Regions from separate parts of the Homo sapiens genome. Here region 2 is linked to region 1. The links come from fine-mapping of genetic effects on plasma protein levels. A gene starts in region 1. The other region holds a variant in brackets. All regions are shown on one strand. Distances are from middle to middle.

Region 1 (2,918 bases):
AGCATTTTTTTCTTCTTCTTCTTGAGATGGAGTCTTGCTCCGTTCCCCAGGCTGAAGTGCGGTGACACAATCTCGGCTCACTGCAACCCCCACCTCCCAGGTTCAAGAGAGTCTCCTGCCTCAGCCTCCCAAGTAGGTGGGACTACAGGTGCCTGCCACCACGCCTGGCTAATTTTTTGTATTTTTAGTAGAGACAGGGTTTCACCTTGTTAGCTAGGATGGTCTCAATCTCCTGACCTCGTGATCTGCCCGCCTCGGCCTCCCAAAGTGCTGGGATTACAGGCGTGAGCCACCGCACCCGACCCTGTGAAGCGATTTTAACATGACACATGTCAAGCATGATAACCTGCTTGATTTGAACTCACTGCTTTTTCACTTCTTCAGAAATCTTACCTAAATGCTTTCAGAGTGACCCTTTCCAAACAGTGTCATTTTCCAAACGGGCCACTTCACAAAATAAAAGAAAACCAGGTGGGTTGAATGATTTTCCTTTGCATTTAGAAAATTCTTGAGTTTTTTAACCCTTGTACCATATCAAAAACTAGATCAAAGGTCTGATAAATGTCATATTTACCATCTCAAAAGATACAGCCAGTTCTCTTTTTTATATTGTAAAAAGGCCATGTCTCCATCTGGGCATTTGTTCCCACTCTTTTATTCCCCTGCGCCTACCCTTGATATTCACTGCCTTCTCCCGTTGGCACCTCAGCCTCTACAATGATACAACAAAATACAGATGTTTCCTCTTGCCCTGATAACAAGAGAAACTTCCCAGAGCAGCAAACGAGATCTCTAAATCTCCAAGCAATATGAACTTTCAAGCAACTCCTCCCCAAACGGCAAATCCAAGGGAGAAAGTGGGAGACAGAGATGGGCAGTTCTGCAGCTTTAATCAAAGTCTCCGTGCACTGCAGTTTCAAAGGGCAGGCATCCGTACCCAGAAAGAATAAGATCTTTAAAAAGAGGCTTTCTCTTTCATTTTTATGATATGCAAATACTCAGAGTTTATTCTGCCTCCTCAAAATGAAAACCTGTACAAAGTCGTAATTTGGCTCCAAATGTTGACTAGGTGATGTGGAGTAGTGCATTATCATGAAAAATTGTTCTCTGGAAAAGGATGACTTCCTGCCGGACTGACCATCACTCTTGCCTCTTCAGACCAGACCCTCTCTTTAGCTTTAAACTTGTCCAAAGCAGCCAAGTTCAGCCAGTATTAGCACTTCCTCCCTATCTCATAATCCACAACTATTAGGCTAAGTGGGACGGGGCTTGGGTTGGAGGTGGAGGGGAGTTGAGGGAAAGTTAATTATCATTTTAAATGCTATTCAAACAACAACAAAAAAGAATGTCAAAAAAAGCATAATGAGAGCTTTTAGAAACCTATACTACATACTGAGTTCAGAAAGGATGCTGGGAATAGGGTAAAAAGAGGGTGTTAAAAGGAATAGGGAAGGTTAGCAGGAGAGTTAAATACTAATACTAATAATGAAGAAGAAGAAGGGAACTAACCTGCATAGGGGATGGCGATGGGGAGCAGGAGGAGATGCAGGAGGACATGCTGCAGCAGCAGGGCTGGCAGGAGTTTGGTCACCCACATGGTGCTGCTGGACGGGCTGGCGGATCCCTCTGGAGGAGATGCCTGGGTGAAAGAATCCTGTTCGGAGTCAGTGCCTAAAAGAGCCAGTCGGCTCTGAGCTGCTTTTTATTGCGATGAGCTAAGTTTGTTGTGTGATTAACTGGAAAGATCTAGGTCTGAACTCCCTCTTACGGTAAGAAACTGTTTAACAACAGCCCTTTACTCTCTTCCAGCCCCCTCCTTTCCTCACTCGCCCCCCCTTCAACAGCACCAAACAGATCCCTGCAACCCCCCCCATTCCCCGCCTCCCCCCAACCCCACGCTTAGGAAAGAAACTTACAAAGAAAAGGTCACCTGGCCTGAGGCCAGCTTCAATTTGGAAGCTGGAGCTCCAGATCCCAGTGGCTCCTATCCGAGTAAGGAAGGGAGGAGCAAGGCTGAGCCCAATGGCTAAATCAAGGCACAGGCAGGGGACCAATTCGCTCAATTTAAACAGGAAAATACATGTGTTTATATATCTATTTGGGAAAAGAGGAAGGGGAAGCAGCATAAGAAGAAAGCGAAGAGCTGTCTTTCAGCCAAATGTGCCCCAGCTCCTAATCTGTCTAGTTTTCCTGCTAGAGCAACTGAGGGATTCAAAACACTGACACAGGTTCTCTAGGGGTTTAGAGACCTGGGAGAGGTGGGAGCGGGGCCAGGGAGGAGAGCCCAGGCACGTCCAGCCCAGGTAGAAAGAGGTTAGTTAAGAAAAGGGTGTGGTATTGTGGGGCCAAAATAAGCAAGCAAAACAAAAGCACGCAGATTGTCAGATGAAAAAATTGCCCCTGCCCCATGGGCTCAGAGCAGGCAGCTTTTTTTTTTTTTTTTTTTTTTTTTTTTTTTCACAAACTGCCAAACTCACGAAATACCACACATTTACCCAAAGTATACAAAATAAACTTGTCTGATCTGACTTTTTAAGAGAAAGTCCAAGAAACAGTCATTGTCCATAGCCTGTCCCTGACAGGTAAATATGCCATGTGGACTTGTACAGGCACACACGTGCACACAACACATTCACACATGTTGGTGTGTATGTACGTATACACTGGTTAGGACTGACTTTCACCGGAAATCCCTCAAGCTGTTTGAATTCGTGAGTACTGAATATGCCTCTCTTTTCCAGCTTCATCTGCCTGTACACGACAGCCAGCTTCCCAAAGTGTAAGTGGAAAGATGAGGAGCTTGTATGGGCATGGGGGGACTCCTAGGTATCAAATCCTTGTGAGATCATTGCCCAGACCCCTCACTTGATTCAGAGAATTTGTCTTTGCACCCAGAGGTGGATGCTCTGGTAACTTTA
Region 2 (2,918 bases), 40 kb before region 1:
TAAAACAAATAACAAAATTAAGAAAAGATGGCTTAAATTCTACCAAGATATAACAGGTAACTTCTGATACTTAAGCTTCACTTGTGAAGTCTGTGAATTAAATGTTTATATCCATTCTGTTTTTCTTACAGATGAATTTCACTAGGTATCTTTACGTACACAATTTCTTATTGGGTATTACTAGTCATTAGAAGTTAACAAAAATGTGAATGGCAGTGACACTATCTCCTTTGTCCCTTATAACTAATATTTTCTCTGTTTCTTTGTTTTTTCTACTTTGATATGTATTTCTCAGGTGTGAAACCCATGGGTCACGAATAGAGAGTGAATTGCTGTGATGGAAATGAGGGAAATAAACCCAGCATGACAACTGTCAATTTTGTTATTGTAAACTAATGGGAAAAAATCTTAGATTAATATTTACTATTTAAACAAATAAATTACAGAACTAGCTAAAGCTTGTGCATGCACACACACACATACAACACAAATCTCCCCTCTCCTATGGCGGATGGGCCAACTAGTGCTCATAGCTCTTCATTCAGAAATGTTAGGCTGTCTTATTAAAAGCCAATTACATAAAGCCAATATATGTTATTTATAGGTGCTATTTCAGAAAAGCCACTATGAATGATGTGTGTTATTAATTTCAAAAGCAATCACTTTATGTTCCTCATAACAAGGTGGACAATTTAAAAACACATGGCATTGTGTCTGTGCCTGTCTGCAAAAGTCAAATGGTGTGAAAAGTACCCATAGAGAATGCACAAAACAACTATGTAATTGATACTCAAGGGCAGTTTCTTTGGCTTGAGTCATCTACACAATTGATTTGCTTCCCCACTTTTCAAAGCAAATCCAGAAACAACTGAACACATTCATTTAAGCTTTGAAAAATTATTTTATTCACAGATCTTTAAGGCTAATAACTCTTCAGTGGTAGGCCTTTTCTTTCCATTCTTTCGAAAGGAAAAATGTGTAATCCTCCCAAAGCTAATACGAAAATTTAAGAAGGCAGTATTTTGAAACATGCCTGGCTGCCATGACTATTAACTGATTTACTAAACAGACCCAGAAGAGCAAAACTGTGATCAGAAATCCACCTAGGGATGTGTTTCCCAAAGCATAGTGAATCTACCCTCTGGATCTGAACCACCTAGGGTCCTTAATGAAATGCATATTTGAGGACCAAATCCCAGATTAAGAGAATCAAAATCTCTGAGTGGAGGTGTAATCTGCCTTTTAACTCCTGATTATCACTGGGCACGCTGAAGTTTGATCACTAACACAAAATTAGTAAAAAGTAACCACTCTACCTCATTTTCCCCAGGGCCTACTGAAATGTATAACATTTGCCTACTTTACTCACTTGCACTTGAAATTTTCAGGAGTCATGTCATGCTCGTGAGGATACTGAGAATCCCAACGCTGACATGGAATTCCATTCCAAATGGTATTGACAGTGCCCCTGTAGCCTTCTCCTTGACCTTGGATGCATT[C/T]AGTTGTTTCCAAAGGAACATCAGTGTCATTCATAGTATTGTCAGCTATTGGCAAAAAACAACAACAAAAAAAAACTTATATAAAATCTTTGAAGATGTCATTTGCCTCTTAGAGTTCATTGGCATTTGTATTAGCAGATTTTTTTTTCTGTTACTTATAAGCTTTTATAATAATTGAGTGGAATAAGAAATTTAACTTAACATTATTACTAACTTCATTCCAATTTTCCTTTCATTCAAATCCTAAATTAGTTTTTTCTTGAAAAGTTACTTAAATGCATTTTACCTCCACATGTATAACTTATATATGCTGAATATATAGTGTTTCTGAAATGACTATACAATTATTTCTAAAATCAGCTTGCTTATAAGTACATACAAAGTGGTAATGAAATTAACCATAATTTTCCTCCAATATAATACATATATTCTGGCCAGGTATGGTGGCTTATGCCTGTAATCCCAGCACTTTGGGAAGCTGAGGTGGGTGGATCACCTGAGGTCAGGAGTTTAAGACCAGCCTGGCCAACATGGTGAAACCCCATCTCTACTAAAAATACAAAAAAAATTAGCCAGGAGTGGTGGTGGCAGGTGCCTGTAATCCCAGCTACTTGGGAGGCTGAGCCAGGAAAACGGCTTGAACTCAGGAAGTGGAGGTTGCAGTGAGCCAAGATCGTGCCATTGCACTCCAGCCTGGGCAAGAAGAGTGAAAGTCTGTCTCAAAAAATAAATTAAATAAATAAATAAATTCTAAGCTAACATGTTAAATATATTTTTAGTCATCTTGTTGACAATAAAGAAAAAATCAGTTATTCCTAGGAAGATCTATCTCCTGCTTTTTTTCCTAGTCCAACTTCAATGCTTACTATACGTCATGAAGATTTGAAACCCTCAGTCACTAAGTAATAAAAGTATAAAATTAAATTTTTACCACAATTTGGTCTCTCTCTCTCTCTGTAATGTTTAGTCAATCAAAATGTAACTCAAAACATTCCAGAGCAACTAAAATTCATATATCTTCTTAAAACATACATGAAAATGTTTATGGTTTGATAAAAGTGTAAACTTCCCAGCTACCTTTACAATCTAAATGGCCATTCAAGATGCCTCTGGATGAAACTCAAGTTGGCAGCCTCTAGGACAGTTTAAGATTTGAGTAAATTTCATTGATTTATCCATTTTGGAATTGGATGTACCACTGTACGAAGGACAGGCCAGAATTAGACATGCTTTCAGTGACTAGGGATGCCTATGAAAGTTTTCTATAGTTAATAGTGTAAATATTTTTAATAGCTTTTAAATTTCATCTAAACACCTCTCTCATACAAACCATTTCTACCTTATGTAGTTAGTTGAATGCTTTATTTCATTGCATTCTATGAGCTAACCTAGGCAAACTAAACAATAGCTTATGTTTAG

Alleles and levels. Positions count from the first base shown, and alleles are read on the strand shown. Strength reflects both the effect of a copy and how common the allele is.
With allele C in place of T in region 2, the plasma level of the protein whose gene starts at base 1,673 in region 1 is higher (moderate association).

The links. PIP is the posterior inclusion probability: the model's chance that the variant is causal. The UK Biobank Pharma Proteomics Project read protein levels with antibody pairs (Olink). The fine-mapping took linkage between variants from a reference panel, not from the people measured, so its PIPs are less certain.
Region 2: its variant is fine-mapped to the plasma level of the HGF protein (UK Biobank, PIP above 0.99). The variant lies in the coding sequence of HGF. If it changes the protein, the assay may bind it differently, which can mimic a change of level.

Annotation. Positions count from the first base shown.
Region 1 is chr7:81,768,375-81,771,292 of GRCh38, forward strand. HGF (hepatocyte growth factor) reads right to left here and starts at 1,673. Exons shown (of 18, transcript NM_000601.6): 1 at 1,510-1,673. The coding sequence starts at 1,597.
Region 2 is chr7:81,728,236-81,731,153 of GRCh38, forward strand. HGF (hepatocyte growth factor) reads right to left here. Exons shown (of 18, transcript NM_000601.6): 8 at 1,370-1,544. Among named protein-coding and RNA genes, the nearest start is that of HGF, 40 kb to the right of the region's middle. The variant C/T (reference allele first, on the strand shown) is at 1,500.